2 separate regions of the Homo sapiens genome follow, and region 1 is linked to region 2. The links come from fine-mapping of genetic effects on gene expression. A gene starts in region 2. The other region holds a variant in brackets. All regions are shown on one strand. Distances are between the middles of the regions. Region 1 holds the start of RHCG (Rh family C glycoprotein). Region 2 holds the start of LINC00928 (long intergenic non-protein coding RNA 928).

The links.
Region 1: its variant is fine-mapped to the expression of LINC00928 in esophagus mucosa (GTEx, PIP 0.96).

What each region holds. Positions count from the first base shown.
Region 1 is chr15:89,496,130-89,509,685 of GRCh38, reverse strand. RHCG (Rh family C glycoprotein) reads left to right here and starts at 13,103. Exons shown (of 11, transcript NM_016321.3): 1 at 13,103-13,325. The coding sequence starts at 13,142. LINC00928 (long intergenic non-protein coding RNA 928) reads left to right here. Exons shown (of 3, transcript NR_027077.1): 3 at 3,908-4,756. The variant T/C (reference allele first, on the strand shown) is at 8,934.
Region 2 is chr15:89,514,045-89,530,904 of GRCh38, reverse strand. It overlaps LINC00928 (long intergenic non-protein coding RNA 928), which reads left to right and starts at 6,871. Exons shown (of 3, transcript NR_027077.1): 1 at 6,871-7,324.

The sequences.
Region 1 (13,556 bases), 20 kb after region 2:
AGCATAAGTTTTTATGGAGACACTCAAAACATACTATATACATATAGTACGCCTCTGCAGTCAAACCTCAAGCCAGTCTTCTTTTCCCATCTCATTTACCTTTCCAAATAAGGCCTTTAACCCAATCCCAGTCTGACCATGGTGCATGAACTAGACATGTGAGATTTCATTTTGCATAAATATATATATGTATATATATATATATATATAGTATATATACTGTGTTTCAGGTGTCCCCATAAAAATTAACATTTTTATATATCATATTATATATAACATATATAACATTTATATATCATATTATATATAACATATATAACATTTATATATCATATTATATATAACATAACATTTATATATATCATATTATATATAACATATAACATTTATATATCATATTATATATAACATATAACATTTATATATCATATTATATATAACATATAACATTTATATATCATATTATATATAACATAACATTTATATATCATATCATATATAACATATAACATTTATATATCATATTATATATAACATATAACATTTATATATCATATTATATATAACATATAACATTTATATATCATATTATATATAACATATAACATTTATATATCATATTATATATAACATATAACATTTATATATCATATTATATATAACACATAACATTTATATATCATATTATATATAACATAACATTTATATATCATATTATATATAATACATAACATTTATATATATCATATTATATGTAATATATAACATATATATCTCATATTATATATAATATATATAACATTTATATATCGCATATTATATATATTATATATAACATTTATATATCTCATATTATATATAATATATATAACATTTATATATCTCATATTATATAATATATATAACATTTATATATCATATATAATATTTATATATCATTATATATATTCATATATCATATTATATATAATATTCATACATCATATTATATATAATATTTATACATCATATTATATATAATATTTATATATCATATTATATAATATTTATATATCATATTATATATAATATTTATATATCATATTATATATAATATTTATATATCATATTATATATAATATTTATATATCATATTATATATAATATATAACATTTATATATCATATTATGTATAATATATAACATTTATATATCATATTATGTATATATAATATTATATATTATATATAACATTTGTATATCATATTATGTATATATTATATATTATATATAACATTTATATATCATATTATATATTATATATAACATTTATATATTATATTATATATTATATATAACATTTATATATTATATTATATATTATATATAACATTTATATATTATATTATATATAATATATTATATATAACATTTATATATTATATTATATATAATATATATAACATTTATATATTATATTATATATAATATATATTATATATAACATTTATATATTATATTATATATAATATATATTATATATAACATTTATATATTATATTATATATAATATATATTATATATAACATTTATATATTATATTATATATAATATTATATATTATATATAACATTTATATATTATATTATATATAATATTATATATTATATATAACATTTATATATTATATTATATATAATATTATATATTATATATAACATTTATATATTATATTATATATAATATTATATATTATATATAACATTTATATATTATATTATATATAATATTATATATTATATTAACATTTATATATTATATTATATATAATATTATATATTATATATAACATTTATATATTATATATAATATTATATATTATACATAACATTTATATATTATATATGTAATATTTATATATCATATTCTATATAATATTTATATATCATATTCTATATAATATTTATATATCATATTATATATAATATATAACATTGATATATATCATATCATATATATTATATATACCATTGACATATATCATATCATATATATTATATATAACATTTATCTATATACATAAACATTTGACCCTTGAACAACACAGGGATTAGGGGCACCAACTTCCCAGGCAATCAAAAATTTACATATAACTTTTGATCCCCAAAAACTTAACTACTAATAGGCTACTGCAGATCAGAAGCCTTCAATAACATGAACAGTCAATTAACACATATTTCATGTGTAATATGTATGATATATTGTATTCTTACAATAAAGTAAGCAAGAGAAAAGAAAATGTTAAGAAAATCATAAGAAAGAGGAAATATATTTAGTGTTCATTAGGTGGAAGTGGATCATCATAAAGGTCTTCATTCTCATCTTCATATTGAGTAGACGGAGAAGGAGGAAGAGGAGGGGTTGGTCTTGCTGTCTCAGAAATGGCAGAGGAGAAAGATGTGGGGGAGGTGGAAGGGAAGGCAGGAGAAGCAGGCACACTCAGTGCATTTTTGTTGTTGTTGTTTTGTTTTGTTTTTTTGAGACAGAGTCTCGTTCTATCAACCAGGCTGGAGTGCAATGGCGTGATCTTGGCTCACTGCAACCTCCACCTCCTGGGTTCAAGCAATTCTCCTACCTCAGCCTCCTGAGTAGCTGGGATTACAGGCACCCACCACCGCACCCGAATTATTTTTGTATTTTTAGTAGAAACAGGGTTTCACCATGTTGGCCAGGTTGGTTTCAATCTCCTGACCTCGTGATCCACCTGCCTTGGCTTCCCAAAGTGTTGGGATTACAGGCGTGAGCCACTGCACCTGGCCAGTGCACTTTTTATTGAGAAAAATTTGTGTATAAGTGAATCCATGCAGCTCAAACCTATGTTGTTAAAGGGTCAACTGTGTGTGTGTGTGTGTGTGTGTGTGTGTGTGTAGAGAGAGAGAGAGAAGCAGAGAGAGAGTTTTTATAAGGAATTGGCTCACATGATTATGGAGGCTGCCAAGTCCCAAGATCTGCAGTCAGCAAGCTGGAGACCCAGGAGAGCTGATGGTGGAGTTCTAGTCTGAATGTCAGCAGGCTAGAGACCAAGGAAGAGCCAATGTTTTAGTTCAAGTCTGAAAGCAGGAAAAGCACTGGTACCACAAGCTGGAAGGCAGTTGACAGAAGGAGTTCCCTTCTCCTTCGGAGTGAGGGTCAACCTCTTCATTCCATTCAGACCCTCAACTGATTAGATGAGGCCCACCCATATTTGAGGGCAATCTGCTTTACTCAAATGATGATCTCATCCACAAACACCCTCATAGACGCACCCAGAAAGAATAGTGTTTGACCAAATGTCTGGGCACCCCATGCCCAGTCAAGTTGACCTGTAAAATTAACCATCACAGCAGCCAAGGCAGAAATGGAAGTGAGACAGTGGTGGTGGAGGAGCTGCAGCCAGCACCTGAGGCCCTGCCCTGCGGGAGGTCCTACAGAGATAATGCAGAGCTTACCAGGCCCTGTCCACCTGCCCACCCTCAGGGGCAGAGATACAGTCCTCCAGCCAGGAGCAAGGCTGTGCCAAGAGATTACCTCCAGCTTAAGGCAGAGTGTAGATGCCATACCCCAGTGGTTCTCAACTGGGGCAGTTTTATCTCCCAGGAGACATCTGGTAATATGTGAATACCTTTTTTGTTGTCACAACGAGGGGATGGTCATACTCCTGACCACTCACATCCAGTGGGTAGAGGCCAGGGGTGCTGCTAACGCACAGGACAGTCCCCAAAACAGAGATTGATCAGGCCCCAAATGTCATTGGTGCTGAAGTTGAGGAACCCTGCCCTCACCTTCTTTCCTCCACATCTTCCCTCAAGCTGCTCGTGGCATGCCCTTCTCCACTAAGCCAACTTGTTAAACCTCTTCACGGCTGAGATCATGCTGCTTTCTTCTTCAGATCTGCCACCCTCTAGCTGGGTGACTTTTAGACAAGTGATCGACCTCTCTGAGCCAGAGTTTCTACCTTGTAAAAAAAAAAAAATCCCTTCCTGCATGGTCAGCTGTCATGAAAAGGACACATGGTGATGGGCAGACAAAGACAAGGCTTAGCTTCGTGTTTGACTCCTAGGAGCGCCCAGTTCATGGAGGCTGCTGCTGTCACTAATCTGTTTCCATCTTCCCCTGGGAATCCTGAGGTTTATCTGTGAGCCTTTGGACTGCTGTATGGACAACATACTCTGCAGTAGCATGAAGAAGTGAGTGAAGACCCTCCCTTGAACCGTTTGCCCTGAAAGAACAGAAGTCACATCTTGATATCTCAGTGCCTTTACAGTGCCAGGGATGGGGTAGGTGCTGAGCGCCTGGTATGTGCTCACCCTATGCTGTACAACACACAGAAAGCCCCACAGGGTTTGAACTGTAATTAGGTAGAGGGTGTGTGGGACTCGCCTTGGGTCTCTGACTTTGGCTTCTGCTCCCGGCCTTGGATAGGCTGATATTTTCTAGTAGATATCAGAGACTCCGGTTGATAGCACCACAATGGCTTTTCTCCCAACTTTTTGTTTTACGTATTATCAAGCCAACAGAGAAGTTGCAAGAATAGCACAATGAACATGCATATACCCTTCACCTGGATTCACCACTTTTGTTTCATTTCTCTCAGTATATATGTTTGTGTGTGTTGGAGACATATGACATTTTACCTCGAAACCAGGCATCTCCTAGGAAAAAGAGCAGCCTCCCATATAACAACAATACAATGATAACCCTTAAAAAACTTTGCATTAATAAATCCCATTAGTTAATATACCATTCTTAGTTCCTTTTCCTCAGTTGTTCCAATAGCGTTTTTTTTTAAGATTTTGTCTTGATCCAGGAGCCAATCAAGAATCAATCAAAGCATTTTATGGATTTGTCACGTCTCTTTAGCCTACAATCTTTGCCCTCCTTGTTTTTTGTTTGTTTGTTTGTTTTTGACATCCATCACACCTACATTTCTTTTTAAGACTCCAGACCAGTTGTTTTGCAGAATATCCCTCAATTTGAGTTTGTCTGCTGCTTCTGCGTGATTAAATTCAGGGTATGCATTTTTGGCAGGAATAGCACATTTGGGATTGTGTCCTTCTTGGAGCAGCCCATCAGGGAGCAGCACATGATGTCCAGTTCCCCACTATTGCTGTTCTTATTTTTGATCCCATAAGTTGTCATGGAAGAGAGTTTTGCAGAGAGACCTACACCCTTTCCCCTCACTCCACAAGCCACCTACACTGAAGATCTCCCATGAGTATGGGGAGGCAGCCCTGTCTGTGGCTTTGAGGGACTAGAGATGATGGAGGCATGTCCAGAGCTGCTTCCCGGGGCCCCTAGCCCATTCCCCCAGCCCTAATCCCCGCTCCCAACTCCAGGGAGGGCGTGGGACCCCCTCTCCTGGGCCCTGCCTTTGCAGACTTTTCAGAGAGCACCAGAGGGGAATGCCATTACCCACCGTCATAGAAGCAGCACCAATTATATTTGTGACATTTTTCAGTTTACAAAAGACTTTCCTATTGCTTCTTTTCTTTTTATTTTTCTTTTTTTCTTTTTTTTTGAGATGAGGTTTCACCATATTGCCTAGGCTGGTCTTGAACTCCTGGGCTCAAGCAATCCTCCTGCCTCAGCCTCCCAAAGTGCTGAGATTGCAGGCCTGAGCCATTGTGCTCAGCCCCCATTCATTTCTAGTGGCAAATAGTAAAAGCTGCCACTTCATCAAGTACATACTACCAGTCTCGGGGTTAAAAGCATCATTATGCATTAAGGTCATCCCAGGTACTCCTGTCACCCTCTGTATGGATGGGGAAACCAAGGCCCAGAGAAGTTAAGCAGCTTGCCCAAGGTCCCCCAGCTAGGAAGTGGCAGGGCTGGGACTGGAGCCCGGGCCTCCTAGAGCCTCTGGGTCACTGTGCTAAGCACCAAGCTGCATGGTCTTTGAGCATCACAGCAAAATGAGAGCTGAGCAGCACAGACACGGAGGCACCCATTTGCAAATCAAGGAAATCAGGCCCAGACAGGGGGTGTGATCTGACAAAATTTGTGAAACTGGGACCAGCCCCAAGAACTTCTGAGTCCTGGCCTAGTGTCTCGCCACAGCCTCAGGCTGCGTGTGGGACCAAGGCCAGAGATGTCAAGGATGCAAACAGTCATCTATCAAGAGGGATGAGTAGAGAGAAGGGTGATAGCAGGGACAGTCCCAGCACCACGCCCTCAACACAGCCACACCAGAGCAGGGGAGACTCCACCTCACCTGGAAGAAAGACAGCCTGAACCACCTTTGCCTCGAAATCCATCTCCCTGCCTGCCAACGTGGCTACCACACCCTGCCTCTCCCTGGCTGGGGAAAGAACCATCGCGTCCCAGCCGTCAGTCATCCCTGCTTGTCAAGGCACACACATTTTAGGAGGAAGAGGCCGGTTCCTTAGGAAAACCCCTGCCTGGCCTGTTAGACTTGAGCAGCAGGTTTCTTAAACCCCCATCTCAGAGGACAAGGCAAGAATTCCACCTCTGGGTTGTCATCTGAAGTACCAAGCTGGGGTGGGGAGAGGGAGGTAGCCTGGAATCATGTGGTAGGGCATACATGAGACAAGAAAAGCCAAAGGGCAGAGGGTGAAGGTCTACCTATTATCTGCCCTGCAAATCCTAGATCAAAGTCCACCTCTTCCATGAAGTCCACCCTGATCACCCCAGGGCCCATCAAGCTCTCCTCAGGTATACAGGAAAGTGCTCATTCTGCTTTAACCACTGGGGCAAACTTGTATCTCCTTTTCTATGGTGCAAATCTGGGGGGCATGCTTATATAGTTATTTGGGCCTGATATGGAGCTGTGTGCAGTGGGTGCTCCGTACATGTTTTAAATAACTGAATAAATTGAAAGAATCCATTCATCCATTCATTCCATTGGAAAAATAATTAATGGGCAACAACCGCAAGCTAGGATCTCTTCTAGGTGTCCTTGCCCTTGGGTGCTGATGTTCTAATGTAGGAAGACACCATAGACAGATACGAGAAGCGCTAGGAAGAAACAGTGTATGAATGCTTGACGTGGAGGTTGGGATAGGAGAGAGTGGGGAGAGAGCCCTCCACCCTCCCGCTGTCTCATCAATCCCCTCTAGCCCCAGCCCCCTTTACCCACAAGGACAGACACTCCGCAGAGCACCTGGGCCTTGCCTGAGGTGGGCGGGCAGGCTGCTGGCCATGCCTTATGTGAGCTGGAGACAGAATGTTCTGGGAGGGGACATTTTTCCTAGGCTTCTGGAATAGTGGCCATTTTTTCTTCCAGGAGCACCAGAAATAAAACTGCCGGCCACCCAGGGGAGAAACTGAGAGCTTGGCCTTTACTAATACCAAGGGCAGTTGAGGAAGGGGACAGCTGCCTGGGGTGTTCAGAAAAGGGCAGTCACAGCTGGGCGTGGTGGCTCACGCCTATAATCCCAGCACTTTGGGAGGCCGAGGCTGGCGGATCACCTGAGGTCAGGAGTTCAAGACCAGCCTGGCCAACATGGTGAAACCCCGTCTCTACACAAATACAAAAATTAGCTGGGCATGGTGGTGGGTGCCTGTAGTCCTAGTTAGTCGGGAGGCTGAGGTGGAAGAATTGCTTGAACCCGGGAGGTGGAGGTTGCAGTGAGCCGAGATCATGCCATTGCATTCCAGCCTGGGCAACAGAGTGAGACTGAGTCTCAGAAAAGCAAAGCAAAGCAAAGAAAAAAGAGAAGAGAAGAGAAAAGAAAAGAAAAAGAAAAAGGGCAGTCACATCAAAATGCTGTGGGCTGGGACTAGGGCACCGGCAGATGAACTGATTTCCCCGCCTCCCTCCATGGGGCCTTCCTTGGCCGCTCAGTGTACATTGTACTCCTGGCCTCCTCTCTCCCGCTTTCCTCCCCTCTGCTCCACACAGCATGTATCACCCTCCCACATGCTGTCTGCTTTACCTATCTATTGTTAAACACAGTAGATAAGTAAGGTACATACTACCAGGTTGTTTGCCAACCTTCCCCACCATTCGTAGAATGCCAGCTCCACCAGGACTAGGATTGTTGCTTCATTTGTTCACTGCCATGTCTCAGCACCTGAAACAGTGCCTGGCACATACTAGGTGCTCAAAGAATATTATTCATTCCTTCCTCAATCCTTCAAGAACACTCCCCAAGTGCCTCTTCTGTGCCCCCACACTATACTGTGAGCAGGGGACAGATTTATAAATAAGATGTTACCCCTGTCTTAACAGAGTTGATGGACCCTCTAGGGAATGAATGACTTCAGAGGGTGGTGTGCTCCCCACCCCCCTCATCCCAAAAGCTCTCTGTCCTAGCCCAACTTTCAACTTGGACCTCCAGTAACTGGGCCTGTAGAGCCTGCAGAGGTGGTGCTAGCAGTTGCTACTGCTGTCTGTGGTCTCATCTTCTCAAATATTATGCAGGGGGCACTAGGAGAGGGCTTCACTGTCTCCGGGTGGTAGGACCTCACACAGGGGACAGGTGCCATGATCGATGTGGCTGGGAGGATGCTGGGTGTGGGAAAGAGAGAAGAATGTGGAAAGGAAGAAGAGGGCATGCTGGGAGGAGAGGCAGAGGAAGCCGAAGAGGGCAGCCTGCAAACCCCACACAGGATGAGACACAGTGAATGTGGTTGAGGTCACTCCAGGATCAAGGGTGAGGCCTTTCCTGGGTGACTTAGGTCCTGGCAGGGCTGCAAGAGGCTGTGAAGCAATGCACTCGGCTTGTCCAACCAGAGAGAAGGCTGCATGTGAGTGGGGAAAAGCAACAGAGGGGCTAGCTCCTCTGGGCTGGGGGGCACCTTGCAACTAGAAGCAGCTTTGGAAATGACCCATTCACAATCTTCATTTCACAGGTGAGGACGCAAGCCCAGAGAGGCTAAGAATTTGCCTGAGATCACCAGCAGAGGGAGACAGAAACTGGACCCACACCAGGCCAGGACTCCTTCCACCATCC[T/C]ACACTTACCTGCCTCAGTTCTTCAACCTTGATTACCTATCTTTCTCTGCAGAATCTCAAGTGGCACATGCTTTTCAATTGTTCCAGGCACTAGGAAAAAAATGAACAGGAACTGAGGGCATGTCACATGCCAGGCACTGTGCTGGGCTCTTCGCCATGCTGTATCTCAGAATAAGTCTCACCAGCTGGGTGCAGTGGCTCACGCCCGTAATCCCAGCACTCGGGGAGGCCGAAGTGGGAGGATCACTTAAGCCTGGAAATTCAAGATCAGCCTGGGCAATATAGCAAAACTCCACCCCTACAAAAATACAGAAAACATTAGATGGGCATGGTGGCACAGACCTGTAGTCCCAGCTACTCAGAATAAGTCTCACCAAGACCCGAGGGGAGATAACTGTCTCGATTTTACAGATGAGAGAGTAGAGACTCAGAGAGGTTGACAATTTGCCCAGGGTCACACAACTACTCAAGAAGCAGAAGTAAAACCAGGGACGTCAATGCCTAGCTTTCCCTCTGCTCCCCCTATTCTGCAGGGGTCACGCCACCCAGGCCCTCAGGCTGTGGAGGCTCTGACAGTTGGTCTTGCCGCAGAGAAAGGGATGAAGAGAAGACTTCTGGACTGGAAGAGGCTCCCTGGGCCCCTTCCTTGGTTGGTGATTGCTGGGGCTCACTGAGGTCAAGAGAGACCTAGCAGCTTCCTGGAATAAAACAAAGGGAGAAATACCATAAAGGGTTAAATACTATGGTATGTTGATATACTATAAACAAATAATTTTTTCTTTTTTCGAGATGAAGTCTTGCTCTGTCGCCCAGGCTGGAGTTCACTGCAACCTCCACCTCCCGGGTTCAAGAGATTCCTCTGTCTCAGCCTCCCGAGTAGCTGGATTACAGGCGCCTGCCATCACAGCCAGCTAATTTTTGTATTTTTAGTAGAGACGGGGTTTCACCATGTTGGCCAGGCTGGTCTCAAACTCCTGGCCTCAAATGATCCACCCGCCTCAGCCTCCCAAAGTGCTGGGATTACAGGTGTGAGCCACTGTGCCCGGCCAGGACTTGTTTTTGAATGTTAATTCATGATGACCTATATTAGTTGAGTGGCCCAGAAATGTAACCCAAGAAAAAAACCATCTGATAACAGTGTCTCCCTTGAACCTTGTATCCCCTTTGTAGTCTGAAGCCCATCGTTTGTACCTTGAGTCTACCAAATATGAAGGTCAAGGGCAAACGGCCTTCTTGTGCTGGCTGTGGGTAGTGACCGTGCTTGGCTGTGGCTCCAGGTCTGTCCCACTGAGCCTCTGCAGGGCTTGTGAGTCAGCGTCTCTCTCCTGGACCCTGTACCCTGCCCCATCAAGGAGTCCCCCAAGGGGGTCCCGGGTTCCAGCACCACAGGTGTGCTAGGGGACTCTGGAGGAGGTCTGGATGGGAGGGCAGTTCTCACAATGAGCAAGACACCCCGGCTTCCCTATCCTTTAAGCAGGCCAGCCTGGTGAGCAGGTCTTCCACCTGCCCCCTCCCGGCCCAGGCTTCAGGGACCACGCCACCCACTGCCCTCTATCCCATAACGCCACTGCTCCTGTGGGGAACCTAGATGCTCATGAATCTACTTGCAGCAGCCTCCCCCACCCCAGCCCTTGTCTCCCTCCCTCCACTTACTCCCATTGCCGTGTACTTGAAGTTTTTCTCCCCAGCAGTGAATGCACATGCACGAAGTCAAACCCTCCTTCTCGCTCCTTCCAGAGGGGACAAGCAGAATGGCACAGTAGAAAGACTACAGCCTTTGAAATCAGACAGCCCAGGGTTTGAATCTCCAGCAAGTTCCTTAGCCAATCTGAGAACTCAGGTTTTTCAACTGTAGCATGTACCTACAATGTCCACTTCACAAGTGTTTAGTTGAGAATTTAAATATATATCAAAAGGATCCGGCAACCGCAGGAACTTAATAAATGGTCCCTATTGCTGGTATTGCTCATGCAGTGTCTGGCTGCTTCTTTGCCAAGGGAGTGGGGATACCCTGGTACCCCAAGCTGGCACAGTGTGGCCACACTCAAGTTCCAAGCACCCTGATTAGGTGCTTAGCCTCAGATGTTATACATGGCATTAGTGGCTTTTACAAATCTGGGATTTCAACTGGCAAGATTTTTTAAAGCCAGCATTGGCAAGAGTGCATGGGAAAAGTCACTGACCCCTGGCTCACAGGGTGCATGCTTTGTCTCGTAAAATCTTTCTAGGGGAACATCTAGAGATATGTATTGAAACAGCTCTGCCTCCAGGAATTCACAGAAAGTTGTGCAAAGACTTACATATCTGGATGTTCATGACAGCATGATTTGTAATACTAAACAAATAAAAAATGACCTCATCGCTCGTCACCTAACACTAGGGATTGTCTAGATAAAGCACAGTATATCCTGCTATAAAAGTTATGTTGTGGCAGGCTGGGTGTGGTGGCTCATGCCTGTAATCCCAGCATTTTGAGAGGCTGAGGTGGGAGGATCACTTGAGCCCATAAGTTCAAGACCACCCTGGGCAAGATAGGGAGACCCCATCTCTACAAAAAAAAAAAACTTAGCCGGGCGCGGTGGCGCACGCCTATAGTCCCAGCTACTCAGGAGGCTGAGGCCAGAGAATGGTGTGAACCCGGGAGGCGGAGCTTGCAGTGAGCCGAGATCACCCCACTGCACTCCAGCCTGGGCAACAGAGCGAGACCTGTCTCAAAAAAAAAAAAAAAAAAAAAAAAAAAATTAGGTGGGCCTGGTGGCACATGCCTGTGGTTTCAGCTAATTGGGAGGCTGAAGTGGGAGGATCACTTGAGCCCAGGAGGTCAAGGCAGCAGTGAACCATGATCAAGCCACTGCCCTCCAGCCTGGGCATCAGAGCAAGACCCTATCTCAAAAAAATAAATAAATAAAAAAGAAAAAGAAAAAGAAAAAAAGTTGTAGAAGTATAATATGGGAAGGTGTTTACAAAATATGAAAGGAGTTAAAAACGCTATAAATTAGTATGATCGTTTGAAACACTCCCCCTGCTCCCCTCCAGCCCCTCTTCAATGAGCTAGGAAAAGACTAGAGTACATACACCAAAATATTAGTATTGCCTCTGGGTGGTGGGATTATGAGTGATTTTTACTTTCTTCTTTGTGTTTTTCTGTATTTTCCAAATCTCTACAATTATCTCTGTATTTTTAAAGAAAAATTAGAAAATCAAATTTATTTTGACAATATACAGACTAAGCAGACAATATACAGACTGTTATACTGCTGAACAGAGAAACATGGGGATCATTGGCCTCCCAGTGAGATCAGAAGGAATTCCCAGACCTAAATATTATGGTTAACTCATGTCAAGATCACAGATCTTAACCAGAAGACAGTTCCTGACTATGGACCAATGAACTTGTGAAAAACTCTTAAATTGTTCTTACAATCCTTTATACGTGTTTTTTTTCTTAAAACCCTTGTATTTTGGAATAATTTTAGATTTACAGAAAAGTGGCAAAGACAGTCCCCATATAGCCCTTACTCAGTTTATCCTACTGTTAACATTTTACATAACCATGACATTTGTCCCAACTAAGAAAACAACATGGGAACGTCACTATTAACTAATTTTCAGGCTTTATTTGGATTTTACCAGTTTTCCAATTAACATCCTTTTTCTGTTCCAGGGTCAAGTCTGGGGTAGCACATCACAGATGTCTCCCCAGGCCGCTCTGTTGTGTGACAGTGTCCCAAACATTCCTTGTTTCTCATGTGCCCTGTATGAATTTCATAATCAGAAAAAGAAAGGACAGATGATGATGCAGATGATGATGGCAGATGATGATGATGTTGATGATGATGACTTAGGTCTGGGAATTCCTTCTGATCTCACTGGGAGGCCAATGATCCCCGTGTTTCTCTGTTCAGCAGAACAAAAGGAGAAAGGCCCCAGTATCAACGGGACACACAGAATTTGGGGCACCCTGATCCTCCTGCCCACTGCCTTAGCCTCTGCTCCTGCCGCTGTCCCCCAGCCCGACGCGGGGAATCTTTTGGGGCCCTCGGCTTGGGTTGGGCCCCTGCCAGTTGGGCGAGCGCGCGGGCGGTGCCCGAGTCAGCTGCTCCGTGCCCCACGTGGCCGCCCCGCCCCCCTGCCCGGGTCTCAAAAGCCCCGCCGGCCTCCGAGCGTCCGAACCGCCCGCTGCCAGCCCGGCCAGGCACCCCTGCAGCATGGCCTGGAACACCAACCTCCGCTGGCGGCTGCCGCTCACCTGCCTGCTCCTGCAGGTGATTATGGTGATTCTCTTCGGGGTGTTCGTGCGCTACGACTTCGAGGCCGACGCCCACTGGTGGTCAGAGAGGACGCACAAGAACTTGAGCGACATGGAGAACGAATTCTACTATCGCTACCCAAGTAAGTCTCGCCGCCTGCAGGCCCAGCGGAGGCATATCCGCGCCGGTCCCCACCTGGCCAAGGGCTCGGCCCAGAGCTGGGCAGAGGAGGGGATCTACCCTGCAGCCGCGGACTCCGCATCTCGCCGGCCTCTGCAGGGCATGCGTGGGAAATTGTCAGATGTGCACAAACTCCTTTTCCCCGTGAAAAACTAGTAGGGAAAACACCGGGATGAGGTTTTTATTTGACCGC
Region 2 (16,860 bases):
GGCCTTTGCACCTGATGCTTTCTTCAGTGCTTTTTTCTCCTGGCTCTTTCCTACTCATCTTTGAACACCCAGCTTAAAGCCACTTCCTCCAGGAAGCTGTCTCATAATAATAATAATTAAAAACCTGTCTCATAATAATAATCCTCAGCTGCTCCTGTCCTCACAGGTGTCTATCCAGGGCTCACTCTCACCACACTGCCGTATGGATGACTGTGCCCCTGTCTGCCTCCCTGCTAGCTCCTTGAAAAAGTCTAAACAGGCTTGATGTCTGGTCGGTGAGCTTAGGATCCAACAGTGCCTCTGCCACTTTCCATCTCCATGACTTTGAACAAGTCTCTGAATTTCTCAGAGCTTCACTTTCCTCATTGGTAAAATGGAGACAGCTCTTTTGAGGCTTGAATAAGATTAAAGGAAACACACTACGCGAAACTTTGCAGCCACAATTCAGGTGCGCAAGAAACATCACACTTACTTATTTTCTTTAGTTCAGGTTAAGTCTGACTGCAGTAGGCTGGAGGGAAGTTTCATTGCCCCTACTGGGCCTTCCTTCCTTCCTTCCCTCTCTCTCTGCTCACACAGTAATATTGGAAACTTTCGTGATGTGCAGAGAATGAGAGAAAGGCCTGAGATCTGGAGTCCCACCCTGGACATCAGAGATTTGTGCACTGGAGTGTGCAGGATGAGGTAGCAGGTAATAGGAAGCGGTCCCACCTCCATCACACACCAGCTATGTAGCCATGGGAAATTTGCTTGATCTCTCTGACTGTCAGTTTTCTCCTTCTTAACATGGGGATGATGATAGTGCCAACTCCACAGGGTAGTTCAAAGCACACAGCTGATCTATAGAAAGCTTTTAGCATAGAGTGAGTGCAAAGCATGTTGATTTAAGAAAGGTTAACTAGGCCGGGCACAGTGGCTCACGCCTGTAATCTCAGCACTTTGGGAGGCTGAGGCGGGTGGATCACTTGAGGTCAGGCGTTCAAGACCAGCCTAGCCAACACAGTGAAACCCGTCTCTACCAAGAATACAAAAATTAGCTGGACGTGGTGGTGGGCACCTGTAATCCCAGCTACTCAGGAAGCTGGGCAGGAGAATCGCTTGAACCTGGGAGGCGGAGGTTGCAGTGAGCCGAGATTGCGCCACTACACTCCAGTCTGAGTGACAGAGCGAGACTCCGTCTCAAAAAAAAAAAAAAAAAAAAAAGGAAAGGTTAACTATTGCTATTATTAGTATGTATAATGGGAGTCAATGTAAATTAAAATGATTATTATTGATGGTATAGTCAGCCATCTTGCTAATTCTTTTGTTTCTAATAATTTGTTTATTGATTCTTTTGGTTTTCAATGTGATCGCATAATCTGCCACTATAATTTTGTTTCCTCCTGTCTGAACTTTACTCCTTTAATTTCATTATCTTGTCTTATGACCTGACTTTGACCTCTGCAGCCATGCTAGGTAGAAGGGGTGACAGTGGGCATTGTCCTCATGTGGATTTTAAAGGAGATGCTTCCTATATTCCCCACAAAGAATGATGTGTTCCCATAGCCTAGAATTCCCCAAACTTTTTGGTACCAGAAACTGGTTTTGTGGAAGACAATTTTTCCATGGAGGGAGTAGGGGCGGCGGGTATGGTTTCTCATAAGGAGCATGCAACCTGGATCCCTCACATGCACAGTTCACAACAGGGTTGGAGCTCCTGTGAGAATTGAATCCCGCAGCTGATCTGACAGAAGGTGGAGCTAAGGTGGTAATGCTCGCTAGCCTGCCACTCACCTCCAGCTGTGCAGCCTGGTTCCCAACAGGCCACAAATCAGTACAGGGTGGTGATGGGGGACCCCTGCCACAGCCTTTCAGTAAATTAAGGTAATCAGTGTGTTTACCTTCTTTCATGCCTGTTTGTGGATCTCTCTCCACTGACCTTTAGACCCTTGACAACAGAGACTGCATCTGCCAAGAATTGGACAAATTCCCCCAGGGTTGAACTTAGCAGAGACTGGCATTAGCCAAGGGTCTAGGCTGCCTGCTCCATCCTGAGGCTGCCCCTGAGTCCAGCCTTCCACCCCATCTCCTAGCCCTCACCTCTCTCGCCAGATACTGAGTCCACCAGTGTTTTGATCTTGGACTTTCCCGCCTCCAGAACTGTGAGAAATAAATTTCTGCTAAGCCATCCATTTTCATTATAGCAGCCCGAGCAAGCTAAGACACCAGGTGAGGGGTCTGGGGCCTGGAGGACCATTGGTAGAGTCAGGGCCTTGGGGACTTGCTTTTGGAAACCCTGCCTGACATTATGTAGGAATGTGAAATCCCTAACATTTCTCATTAAATACAAATTTGCCATAAAATAATTTGAAATTATCCGGGGACATTTCTTGCTCTTCTTTTTGCTACCAAACCATACTTTTAAATTTTGTTACAACATTTTTCATATGTACAAAAAGGAGACAAAGAATAATACAGTACAAATCTGTGGGATTCACCACCTAACTTAAGAAATAAAATGCTACCTAGAGGGTTGAAACATCCTGTGTGGCCTCTCTGATCCACTCTCCTTACAGCAGAGATAACTACCACCCTAAATTTGGAGGATATTGTTCCCATTTATTTCCTTAAACTTTATATATATTCCTTACAGAGATCTAAAGTGTTTGCCTTTTTTTCAATTGTTACAATGATCTATTAAAATAATTTTTGTAATTTTGCATGTGAAGTTCTTTTGTTACGAGTTACATAAGTTATGCTTGTTCTGATTTTTTAGTCATCGTTAGTCACTTAAGTTCTTGAAGAAGGAGAATAATCTAGCCAATAAATTGATTTCAAGTGTTATGACATGTTTCAGACATAGTTTATAAAGTTGAAGTAATAGTGTGTTTTGTGGACATTTAGCAAAAGGGTCACTAATTTTGACTTTGCAGTTTTCCTTTCATATTTTGAAGCCAGTAATTTTTTTTCTCTAGTCTTATAAATGTTTACGTGAGTACGAAGACCTCCTAGGACCTAGCACTTTAAGGACTTCACACTACTGCCTCTCCCAGTCTTGCCATGAGAGTCCTCGATGGGTACACAGCAGCATTGATATCAGAAGCCAAACTAAAGGTGGTGGTTTGGAGCACCCACTGAGCCAGGCCCCTGTCCTAAGCATTTTGCATCTGTTAATTCACTGACTCCTATAAGGTAGGTGCTACTGCCAGCCCATTTTCCAGAAGAGGAAATAGACACAGCATGGTCACGGCTAGGTAGAAAGGGGTGGGGCTGGGATGTGAACCCAGGCAGTTTGGACACTTCATGATGCTTGCTGCCTGCCATTTTCTGAGCCCCAAATGCACACACATGTACATGTATTTTCTCAGACTCCTCACAAGAACCAGGAATCATCCCCATTTTACAGGAGAGGAGACTGGCCCAGAGAGGCTCAGGGACTTGTTCCAGGTCACACAGCTGAAAGTGACAGATTCTGTGATTCCAAACACTGCCTGTGCCTTTAAGTACTCCACACGACTGCCTCTCCCAAACTTGCCACAAGGCAGCCAGGGTGAGTTCCCTATACCCACTCACTACCTCCATCTCACCCCTCTTTCTGCTGTACAACCTTGCCGGGGAGGGGGGCAGGCGGCGGTCCTGCACGTGTTAAGAGAGGGCGTAGACAGGCACCAGGTGCCAGAGGACCTGACCTCACTGCAGTTCTCTGCCTCTATTAGCCCAGGGCCCCTGCAGTCAGGAGGAGGCTATTTGCAGGCCCTTGGCCCAGGCCTGGCCTCTCCTCACCCCTCCCCACCATCCTTCTCTTTCTCTGGGCTGCTGTCCTGCCCAGGGCAGGTGGCAACCTGGCTGGTTGCTTCCCAGGTGCGATAGTCTCAGCTGACTGCCTCTCCTCCCCCAAGATCGAGACTTATCGGTCATCAGAATCATTCCTGCCATCCAGACCCAGCTCAAGGTCATCCCCAGAAGGTTCCAGCACCTGCTTGCTGCACGGGCCCCCTTCTGCCTTGCCTAGAAATGGGGAGAGAGGGGGTGGCTGGTTTTTTTTTTTTTTAAGAGCCAGATCCTTGCCTGGAGTCCTCTATATTCCAGTGCAGGGAACAGAGCCAGAGTAAAGTTAGAAGGTGAAAGGACAGCAGGCTTTAGATCAGAAGACCAGGGTTTGGTCCCAGGCTCTGTGCCTCCCTTCTGTAACCTTGGACTAGTCACTTTCTCTTTCTGGGCCTCAGTTTCCCAAACTAGAAAGGGTGTTGTGGGGCTAGACACTCTCCAACATCCTTCTCTTCTAGGAGTGTGTGACTAAATCTGTCCCCTGAACCAGAATATTGGGTTTGTGACAGTATTGAGTTTATTATATTAACATATAATAAAAATTATATAGCATATTATAAATTAATTTTTCTTTAGTTAGAAATACTGGCAAACTCATCCCTTGCCATTTCAGGAGGAAGCCTCACGACTGTTCAGCCAAGAAGGAAAGAGGAGACTAAGATGGACCCAACATCTAGAGAAGAGAAGGTGGAAGCAGAGGCAGAAGTGAGAAGTGGGAAGCAGCAAGTGGGAAGGGAAGCCCAGCTTTCCAGTTCTGGCAGTGCAGAGCACTAGAACAGTAGACGGAGCTTTTACAAATGAAACGCCTGAACCTTACCGTAGCCAATCAAATTGGAATTTCTGGGAGTAGAGCTGGGTACGAGTGTTTTTGGAAACACCCCGGATGAGTGTGATGTTCCACGAAGGTCAAGAACCACCATTTAAGAGCAGTGGTTCTCAAACTTTGGCGTGCCTCTGAACCCCCTGAAGAGTTTGGTAAATACAGGACGCCAGACCCCACCTGCAGAGTCTCCCACCCAGCAGGTCTGAATGGGGCCTATATTCATTTCCTGTGGCTGCTGTAACAAATCACCACAAACTCGGTGGCTTAACCAACAGAAATCTATTCTCTTACAATTCTGGAGGTATGAAATTAAAAATGAGTCTCACTGGGCTACCATCAAGGTGTTGGCTGTGTTCCTTCTAGAGGCTCAGGGAGAATCTGTTTCCTTGCTTGCCCCCTCTTCTAGAGGCCACCTGCACTTAAAAGCTTTTTCCCACTTTGGTGTCTTGATTCTTTTTTTTTTTTTTTTGAGACAGAGTCTTACTCTGTCACCTAGGCTGGAGTGTAGTGGTGCAATCTCAGCTCACTATAACCTCTGCCTCCCAGGTTCAAGCAATTCCCGTGCCTCAGCCTCCCGAATAGCTGGGGCCACAGGTGCCTGCCACCACGCCTTAGCTAATTTTTGTGTTTTTAGTAGAGATGGGGTTTCGCCATATTGACCAGGCTGGTCTCGAACTCCTGACCTCAAGTGATCTGCCCACCTTGGCCTCCCAAAGTGCTAGGATTACAGGCCTGAGCCACTGCACCTGGCCTTGGTGTCGATTCTTTATGCTCTTGAGATCCTTGGAATGTATATGTTCTTCCATACCTCCCTTCTGTTTCCTTCACTGAAATTCAAAGTGATTGATATAACAGTACTCCCTGTAGCTTCTTTTCATTTTAACCAAGCCTAAATCAAAGTGTTTTTTTAAAAAATTATAACTCCTATTTTCTTATAAGGATACACAAAACGAAGCAAGATTATATAAGTCAAAGGAAGTAAAAATGAATACGGTACAACAAGGCTAACGACATAAAATTGAACCAGTAATGAAGCTACTGTAAAAAGACAGACCATGGAGTTGTGCACTTTTGCTGCAAGTGGGTACATATTTGGTGTAAAGTTTCCTGGCAGCCAAGACCAAAAGGGAAAACTAGTTAGTTACATAGTTCATAACTGTCCATGTGGTAGAAAATTAATCTACTGCTTAGGAATATGCAGCTGAAAGACCAGAAAGACCCTGTGGAAAGTGGGAAGCCACACCCTCAAGAACATCTTTCCAATAGATTCAAAGACGAGTTTTATGAAATGTTTCTTCTGGCAAAACACAGGAGAGTAAAGCTGATTCTGTAGGGAATGTTGTGCGTCCACCCAGGGATTCATTCTTCTCTTGTTCTGGCTTAAACCTGGGTTAATTTTAGAGTGTCTGGATCATCTGGTTGACCTTAAAGGAGAGTTAGATTCCCAGAAGAAAGAAGGTCGGCCAGTTAGGAAGCATTCTGTTGCTTGATAATTGCAAGCAACAGGAAGTCCAGCCCTATTGGCTGAAACAAATATATTTCTGGACTCGTGTGATTTGGAAGCTCAGTGGTAGTTTTAGCATCAGACAAGACTTTACTCAGAGCTTAAATGCTCTCACCCTCCAAGTATGGGAGTATCCTGGACCTCCCCAAAATGCAACTAAAATGTTAAAGCCCAGCATAGCAGTGGGCCTGTGTAAGTCCTTCCTTCCTATAGTGACTTGTCAGATTAGGTCTGATTAGTCAGATTTTGGAAACTATTCCTATATTTCTTCTTTATATTGACTGGAGAAGAGAAGGTGTTTTCCCCACCATTCTCAGTGAAAGTCCCGAGTTTCAATCTGATTGGATTAGATTAGGTCACACACTCATCCCTTAACTGATCACTGTAGACTGGAAAGCACTAATTAACCTAGGCTGGATTACATACCCTAACTTTGACCTCACTAGACCCAGGATGAGCAACTTGTCTGGGAACAGGGAGCAGAAACAGTGGAGCAGAAACTCTTGGGTTTTAGAATCAGACAGATCCAGGTTAGTTCATTTATTCATCAATTCAAAACACTGGGTGTAACATACCAAATAAAACATATCTAGTCCCACCCCTAACATAGATATTAAACCAGTGTATCAGTTATCTATTGCCATGTAACAAACCACTCCAAAACTTAGTGACCTAAACAATGACCATTTTATGTGCTCACCGTTGTGCAGGTCAGCAGTTTGGGCTGGGCTCAGGTGGGTGATTCTTTTGGACTAATTCATGTGGCTGCAATTGGAGCTGGATGATCTAAATGGTCTCACTCCTAGGTCTGGCTGTTGATGTTGGCTGTTGGCTGAGCCAGGGGCCGCCAGCAGGCTAGCATGGGCTCTTCACTCAGCAGCAGGGTTCCCCAAGAGGACAAGCCCAACACACATGTGCTTTTCAAGCCTGTGATTATCAGGCTTGAAATACTGCAACATCTGCTGCAATCAGTAACAACCACATAAGAAAGCAATGACAAGTTATGATTACTGCTCTGGAGGGAGTGAGCAGGATGCTGTGAGAGAGGGTTACTATTCCAAGTGGCACCTGGGCCAGCAGCATTGGCATCACCTGGGACTTGTGAGAAATCCAGCATCTCAGGCTCCACTGCAGGTCTCCTAAATCAGAATCTACAGTTTAACAAGATCCCCAGCAGATGTGTGTGTAAGGTAACGTTTCAGAAGCTGGTGACTATTGGGGACAGAGGAGTGAAGGAGGGGGAAGAAACAGCACAGCTAGTTTATGCCACTTGGTGTGCTTCTCACATCCTTATAGTTTCTGCCGTGACCTGGCTACCAAGCCAGCAGGGGCCTTCTTCCACTGTCCTGGGGCTCCATAGGAGAGCCCCACATTCACAGTCTCACAGTGAGGACAGCTTTGGTTCAGTGGGTATCACCCAGAGGCAAGCACCTAAAACTGGAGTTCCACTGGGCTTGGCAGGGAGCTTGCCCCTGATACGTGGGAACAAATGGGGCCTCTGTTTATGCATACACAGTGCCAGGTGGGGACAGAGGCCAGTGTTGGAGCAGCCAGTTCTGAGCTCCCTAAAGACCCCTAGGAAAGCCAGACCCTCAGGGCTGCTTGGTCCATCAGCCCCTCACCTGGCATGGAGGATGACAGTGAGTTGTCAGGTCCACAACCATAAGGCTGTGAAGAGGCTTTCCTGGTGGGCAAGTGGGTGGCATTCTAGAATGCCATGCTAGAATGACTGTGTGTCCCATTTGCACAGGGCAGTCCTGTTGACACCTGCCATCCTGTTGTAATTATTAATAATGCCCTTATTCTGGTTTGGATCATAAATTGAAAGGGTCACCCTACTTAAAGCCTGAGTTTAATCTCAGAATTCAGGAAGGTGCCTCTGAAAGAGCACTGGACCCTGAATCAGGAATAGGAACTCTTGTCTTGCCCTGCTTCTGGCAAGCTGGGGGACCTCAGGCATGTCCCTTTTTCCTTCTGGCTTCAGTTGCCTTATATGTCAGAATCGAGGGGTTGGATCAGACAATCCCTGCTAGCTGGGGAGTAAATGAATGTGAAACAGTATCCTTAGGGGTTCTGCTCCATCAGCTCCATGTTGATGAGGACATTGTTCTCTCTCTAGTATCTTTGATTCTATGTCCTCTGGGGACCCCACATTCTGCTAGTTCCTCTCCTGGTCCGCAGCTTGCAGGAACCCTGAACTGGTGTCTCTGAGGCTCTGCCTCGGGGCTCTGTGCCAGTGGGGCCACACTGCCTGTCTGCCTGCCTACTCACCCATACTCTGCTGCACTGGGACCCTTCTTTAGCCTGTACTTCCTAGTTGTGTGACATTTGGGACAAATAACTTAATCACCTGTGACTGTTTCTCCATCTGCCATGGGAGATAGCAATGTCATTCTTGCAGGATCATGGATAGTGCACACAGCGTCCGGCCCATAATAGGGACTCACCAAGGCACTTCTATGCCTCATATGTCTTCAAATTGACCACCTGGAGGGCTCAGCTCAAGTCTTCAATGAGTTGAGAGCTAAAGGAAGTGATTTGCAAGTGTGAAGACTCTAGAAGTTTCCTCTCTGTAACACTCTGCAACGCTCTGAACATTTCCTTTTTTAAAAAAAATTATTTACTTGTTCATTTATTTAGAGACAGGCTCTTTCTCTGTCACCCAGGGCAGAGTGCAGTGGTGTGATCACATCTTACTGCAGCCTCCAACTCCTAGGCTCAAGCTATCCTCATGCCTCAGCTTCCCAAGTAGGTGGGACTGCAGGCAAGGGCCACCATGCTCAGTTAATTTAAAAAAATATTTTGTAGAGACAGAATCTCACTATATTGCCCAGGCTGATCTCAAACTCCTGGCTTCAAGTGATCTTCCTGCCTTGGCCTCCCAAAGTGCTGGGAGTACAGGCATGAGTCACCATACCTGGTTGTAAGTGGAAGTTTCTATGAAAGTTCTCACTCCTCAGCTCTGCCTCACAGACTACATGCTCCACCTGCCATTTGACTAATTGCAGGGAGGAAGGAGGGAAGCAAAATGGACACTTTATCCTTTAAAAGGATCACATAGCTCCTGAGGGCTTTATCCTAGCAACAATATGTTGTGAAATCAAACTTTCTTGCCTGACTCTTGCTTCTGCGGTCTTACTTTGGGACATTTAGCTCCAGCAGAAAGAGCACCACCTCTGCAATCTGACAGCCTTGTCCCCTCTGAACTCTACCTTTCTCTTTTTGACAAAGAAACATTGTCCCCAACTCACAGAATCATGGGGGTTATGCTAGGTGGGATTGTAAAGTATCTGTCCTGTGGTAGGACTCAATAAACTTAGAGCTTTTCCTGCCTTTTGCCCTATTGTCTTTCTGATTGCTGAGAATATATACTTTTCTGTGGGGCAAGATAAGAAAGCAAGAGTTTCAATGTTCTAGTTTCTACTGCTGCATAACAAATGATCCCCAAACATACCTGCTTGAAGCAATAGGTTTTTTGCTCATGATTTTGTGGGCCAGAAATTTGGGAGGCTTCTCTGGGCAGGTCTTGCTGAGGATTTCTCAAGTAGTTATGGTCAGATACTAGATGGTGCTGTCATCATCTGAAGGCTCAAATGGGCTGGGTGTCCAAGATGACTCACTCACCACTGGCAGAAGATGCTGACAGTTGGCAGAGGACTCCATTTGAGACTGTCAACCAGACCACCTACATGTGCCTCTTTGGCATGAGAGTCTTGGCTAGTTGGATTTGTTACATGGAGGCTGGTCACGAACTTCTGACCTCGAGTGATTCCCCCCACCTCAGCCTCCCAAAGTGCTGGGATTACAGGCGTGAGCCACCGTGCTGGGCCCAGAAATTTTTCGTCCTGCGAAACTGACACACTGTACCCATCAAACAGGAACTTCCCATTCTCCCCTTCCCCCGCCCCTGGCAACCACCGTTCAACTTTCTTTCTATGAATTTGATTACTCTAGATACCTCATGTAAGTGGAATCATACAGTATTGCCCTTTTGTGACTGGCTTATTTCACTGAGTATTATGTCTTCAAGGTTCATTCATGTTGTATCATATGTCAGAATTCCCTTTTTAAGACTGAATAATATTCCATTACATGTAGACACCACATTTTGTGGGTTTTTTTGTATTTTTATTACATATATATATATATATTATGGAAATAGTGTCTGGCTATGTTGCCCAGTCTGGTCTTGAACGCCTGGACTCAAGTAATCCTCCCACCTCAGCCTCCCAAAGTGCTGGAATTACAGATGTGAGCCACCACACCCACCACATTTTATGTATTCACTCATTCATAGATGGACATCTGGGTTGCTTCCACCTTTTGGCTATTGTGAATAACGCTGCTATAAACATGGATGTACAAATATCTCTTCAAGACCCTTCTTTTAATTATTTTGGCTATAGACCCAAAAGTAGAATTGTTGGGTTATACGGTAATTCTATTTTTAATTTTTTGAGGAGCTATATTATTGAGTTTTGAGAGTTCTTTCATATTTTAAATAGAAGTCACTTATCAGATACGTAAGTTGAAAATATTTTCTTCCAGACCATTATTTATCTTTTAATTCTCTTAGCAGAGTCTTTAAAAAATCAGAACTTCTTAATTTTGTTGAAGTACAATTTATCCCCCAAAATTTATGGATTATGCCTTTGGTGTCGTGTCTAAGAAATCTTTTCTTTGAGAAGTCCTATTGTTTTCGATTTTACATTTAGGCCTATGATCCACATTAAGTTAAATGTTGTAAGTAATGTGAGGTATAGATTGAGGTTTGTTTTGTTTAGTTTTTTCATATGGATGTCCATTTGTTCTAGCGCCATTTGTTGAAAAGTTTATTCTTGGCTGGGCGCAGTGGCCCATACCTGTAATCCCAGCACTTTGGGAGGCTGAGGCAGGCAGATTGCTTGAGCCCAGGAGTTTGAGACCAGGCTAAGTAACATGGTGAAATCCCATCTCTACAAAAAATACCAAAAAATTTAGCTGGGCCTGGTGGTGCACACCTGTAGTCCCAGCTACTTGGAAGGCTGAGGTGGGAGGATCACTTGAGCCCCAGAGGTTAAGGCTGCAGTGAGCTGTGATCAGACCACTGCACTGCAGCCTGGACATTGGAGAGAGAGAGACCCTGTCTCAAAAAAATGAAAATAAAAGTTTATTATTTCCTCACTGAAATGCCTTTGCAGCTTTGTCAAAATTCAATTGACCATATATGTGTGAGTCTGTTTCTGGACTCTATTTTGTTCTATTTATATATACCAGGAGTGTCCAATCTTCTGGCTTCCCTGGGCCACATGGGAAGAAGAGGTGTCTTGGGCCACACATAAAATACACTAACACTAACGATAGCTGATGAGCTTCTTGAAATTGCAAAAAAAACTCATAATGTTTTAAGAAAGTTTATGAATTCGTGTTGGGCCACATTCAAAGCCATCCTGGCTGCATGCAGCCCATGGGCTGCAGGTTGGACGGGCTTGATGTATACTATTCTCTCACCAGTACCAACTATCTTGATTATTATAGCTTTGGAGTAAGTCATGAAATTAGTAGAAATTCCCTAACTTCGTAGTTCTTGATTGAAATTATTCTGACTATTCTAGTTCCTTTTTTTTTTTTTTTTTTTTTGAGATGGAGTTTCGCTCTTGTTGCCCAGGCTGAAGCGCAGTGGTGCAATCTTGGCTCACTGCAGCCTCCACCTCCTGGGTTCAAGCAATTCTCTTGCTTCAGCCTCCTGAGTAGCTGAGATTACAGGTGCCCGCCACCACACCTGGCTAAATTTTTGTATTTTTAGTAGAGATGGGGTTTTGCCATGTTGGCCAGGCTGGGCTTGAACTCCTGGCTTCAGGTGATCCACCCACCTTGGCCTCCCAAAGTACTGGGATTGCAGGTGTGAGCCACCATGCCCAGCCCCATTGCCTTTTCATACAAACTTTAAAATCAGTTTGCCAACTTTTTTTTGTTGTTGTTGTTTGTTTTTTGAGACAGAATCTCTCTCTGTCACCCAGGCTGGAGTGCAACGGCGTGATCTCGGCTCACTGCAACCTCTGCCTGCCGGGTTCAAGCGATTTTCCTGCCTCAGCCTCCCGAGTAGCTGGTATTACAAGCACACGACACCATGCCCGGCTAATTTTTGTATTCATTTTTAGTAGAGACAGGGTTTCACCATGTTGGCCAGGATGGTCTCGATCTCCTGACCTTGTGATCCACCCGCCTCGACCTCCCAAAGTACTGGGATTACAGGTGTGAGCCACCACGCCTGGCAGCTTGTCTACTTTTACAAAAAAAAAAAAAATTCTGCTGGAATTTTTATTAGAATTGCATTGAATCTAAATCAGTGTGGGAAGAATTTATATCTTAGCAATATTGAATTTTCCAATCCGTGAACATGGTATGCCTCTTCTTTTTTTTAAGGTTTTCTTTGTTTTTGTTTTGTTTTGTTTTGTTTTTGTTTTGTTTTATTTTGTTTTGAGATGGAGTTTTGCTCCTGTTGCCCAGGCTGGAGTGCAGTGGCGCAGTCTCGGTTCACTGCAACCTCTGCCTCCCCAGTTCAAGCAATTCTCCTGCCTCAGCCTCCCAAGTAGCTGGGATTACAGGTACCAGCCACCACGGTCCTGGCTAATTTTTTGTATTTTTAGTAAAGACGGGGTTTCACCATGTTGGCCAGGCTGGTCTTGAACTCCTGACTTCAGGTGATCCACCCGCCTCGGACTTCCAAAGTGCTGGGATTACAGGTGTGAGCCACTGCACCTGGCCTCTTTGATTTTTTTTATTAGTTTATAGTTTTCAGCAGACAGACCTTGCACATATTTTGTCAGATTTATACCTAAGTATTTCATGTTTTCTGGTACTATTGTAAATAAAGCTTCAATTTTTTTTTCAAATTCCAATTGTTTATTACTAATATATAGAAATTTATTTGATTTTTTTATGTTGACCCTTCCCTTTGATTGTTAATCTTCATTATAGATTAACTTCCCTCTTACGTTTCTCACATAAAGACTTTATGGCTATCACATTGCCTTAAGATGGAATGTTAAATATACTCTTTTAAATTGAGTGAGGAAATGAAAATCAGCTGTAAAGAAAGGAAAACAAACTGTAGAGAAAAGAAAACAGACTATCACTAATTAATTTGTTGTAACTCTTATACCACTCTTGTATAGAAAATGCTGTAATCCCATTAAATTTCTTTGTTTTCTACCTGTATTAGCAAGAACTTAACTCTTAACTTTGGAGCACGGATCCCATTTCTCTGGAGTCTTTGTCTCCTGGATGATCATTTTCACCTTTTCACCTGAATAAACTTTAAACTGGATTCTGATCCTTTTAATTCTTTCAGGTTTATAGAGAGAAGATTCAAGCCTCAACAGGCCAGGTCAGTTGGACAAGGTGACTTTTAAGCCCTCTTCTAGCTTCATGAAAACAGATCTGAAACTTGCCTGATCTCAGAAATGGTAGTAAAAACACCATGTACCTGAATGGTCTGGTGGCAGGTATGTCCTGTGCACTTAGTATTCTCTAAGTTCTGGGAGGGGCAGGTTATCTGCCAGTAAGAGGCAGGAGATTCCAGCATCCTGGTGTGCTTAACAGTATCATCTCATTCACCAGACAGGCAGCCCTTGTGCCTCTCCACTAAGGCTAACTGCCAGGAGGATAAGGTGTGGGTGGGTTTTATTCACTGCTCCATCCTCAGAGGCTAGCAAAATGCCTGGAAGAGGGAGAAATCTCTAGTGTTTATAGACAGACCAACACTCGTACCCTGAAAGGACACAATACCACAGGGGATTGGTAGAGGTAATGATTACAGGCAACAGATTGTTCAAAACAACTATATTTAGACAAGTATATTTTTGCAAAACAGCGAAAGCTCAGTGTTCCTTTCAAAATGAAAACTTTCCTTTTCCATACCTCACTATCAATTATTTCAGTCTCAGATATGCCCCGTTCTGTTTCTCCCACAATATTTGACTTAATTAACAATACAGTCGATTATTTACAAGGAAGTTATTTCTAAAACTGTAGTTCAAAATCACATCTGATTTTTTCACCTGACTTTTGTGGTATAGTTGTTTTTGTTTTTAATGATGTTGCCGGGGTTCACTTTTCCCAAAAGTAGTTTTTAAGAGTAAAAAACTGGGGGGAAATCATAAATGGCCAAAGAGGTTAAATAAATTATGTTACCTTCATTAAGTAAAATATTTGCAGCCACTATAATGATGTGAAATTTTATTTACTGGTAAGAAAAGTTCGTAAGGCATTACTGAGTGGGGAAAAAATCAGTTTATAAAACACTATGTATAATGTGATTCCACCTTTTGTTTTTAAAAAATATTTTATATATTTAAATATATTAATATGCAAATATAAGAATACCTAAATATAAGTATATAAACATTCTAGAACAATATACAACAAAATGTTGACAATGGTTATCTCTAGGATTTCAAATCATTTTTGTATTCTTCATATTTGTTATAACAGGGTTCCTTTCTTTATTTTTTATTTTTATTTTATTTTTTTTTGAGATGGAGTCTGTCTCTGTCACCCAGGCTGGAGTGCAGTGTTGCAATCTCGGCTTACTGCAACCTCTGCCTCCCGGGTTCAAGTGATTCTCCGGCCTCAGCCTCCTGAGTAGCTGGGATTACAGGTGCCTGCCACCACGCCCAGCTAATTTTTGTATATTTAGTAGAGACGAGGTCTCACCATGTTGACCAGGTTGGTCTTGAACTCCTGACCTCAGGTGATCTGCCCTCCTCAGCCTCCTAAAGTGCTGGGATGATATGCATGAGCCACCATGCCCAGCCAACAGGGTTTCTTCATAATCAGGAAAGGCTACTGTCATCTTATGAAAAACATTTCAATAAAAGTACATTTCCCTCTAAGAACACAGCTCTGGAATTATAACGTGAGCAAGTAGAAATGAACAAGAACTAGATCTAATACAGGTTTCATAAAGTCTTCTATTACCCAGCTCTCTTGTGGCCCCCAGAGCTGTCCGTCTTCACTTGCCAAACTGTGCCCACAGCAAGCCCCCTTAACTCCAAGTCCTGGTACTCAGCACCACCAGCCTGGGCCTGAGTACCTCTCCCTGAGCTGGGCCTGCATGGAGCAAAAAATGTGTAGGCAGCCAGAGTCCTAGCTGCCCGGGAGGCTGAGATAGTGTTGCTGCTGATAAAGCCACTGTCCATCCAGCAGGGGTGAGACTCTTTAGACAATCTGTACAATCTCTGGGCACAAGAGTTTTCCTTTCTCTGTCTTCCCTCTCTTCCTCGTCCCTTTCTCTTTTCTTTCCTTGCTTCAACTTTCCTTCCCTTGCTTCCACTTCCCTTCCTTCATTTTCTCCATCTCCCAAGCACCTGGAGGTCACAAGGGACTCAATGACGAATCACCCACAGTCCCCCTTAAGGGACCTGCAACTAGAGAGGGAAGCAGGTGAGTCCTAGAGTCCACCTCTGTGTGCTCCGTGCCCTGAGGGAGGGCCTCCTGGAGGAAGTGACATCTGCCTTAAATCCTGAAGGATGAGAATGAGTTGGTCAGGAAAGACAGTGGATAAGAGCCCAATCCTCATGGGCAAGTTGGTTGCTGCTTCAGGTTCCTGACTGGCCCTCCTGTTCCACAGGACCAGTCCTGCCCAGGAAATGGCTTGAAGCCATTCGTTGGCTGGGGTGAGCTCCCTGGCCATCTCACACTACTGCCTCCCTGGCAGCCCAGCCCACCTGGCCCTATGATGGCAGCAGGGCCTGGCTGATGCTCACCCCATAAATGCAGCTGAGTCAGGGTATGTTTCCACACTCAGGACTTCCTGGAGGGACTTGCACAACTGCTCCTGCCAGGTCATGCCCAGGTTTTCTAGTTCTCACCATCAGCTTGGCAATTCTTCCTTATTTTGAATCCAGATCCTTCCTGCTGCATTCAATCCAGTGTCTTTTGCTTTATCCCCAAGGTTTTAAAAAATGAAGAAAAACTGGTCTCCTTGTTCTGTAGGAGAACAGCTGTTCATCTAGAAAGCCGTCCCTCCTTCATTGTTAAGCCCTTGGGCTTTAAGCAAAGATGTGAGGTGTGCTTTAAGCAAGAAAGTATTTGGGATCTTTCTCATTACTCTCGCTTCGACCATGGACCACCCTGGGCACTCAGATCCATTTGCCATTTGGGGGCTATAATTGAATTAAAGACCAATTCAGAGATTATTAGCTCATATGGAACACTGATTGTCTCTGTGAATAAATCCACTACCCTCTCCAATTTTCTCCTAGTAACTAGTAACAGTTTTAAAAAGTATCCCATAACTAGTAACAGTTTTAAAAAGTATCCCTTATGAAGATAGACGTTGGAGAGGTCAGTTTCGGGATGAGTCAACCTTGAAGTTAGACATGGGAGCTGGAGTCCAGGATAGGAGTATTGCAGCAAGGGTGAGGAGGCTCACTAAGATCATTCAAAGGAGAACAAATAAACATCCATTGTTGTGTAATTTTAAAATGTTTTAATACATTCTACTCACGGGGTGTGGTGGCTCACGCCTGTAATCCCAGCGCTTTGGGAGGCCGAGGTGGGCAGATTACTTGAGGCCAGGAGTTCGAGACCAGCCTGGCCAACATGGCAAAACCCCATCTCTACTAAAAATACAAAAATTAGCCGGGTGTGGTGGCGCATGCCTGTAATCCCAGCCACTCATCCACTCATGAGGCTGAGGCAGGAGAATCTCTTGAACCCGGGAGGCAGAGGTTGGAGTGAG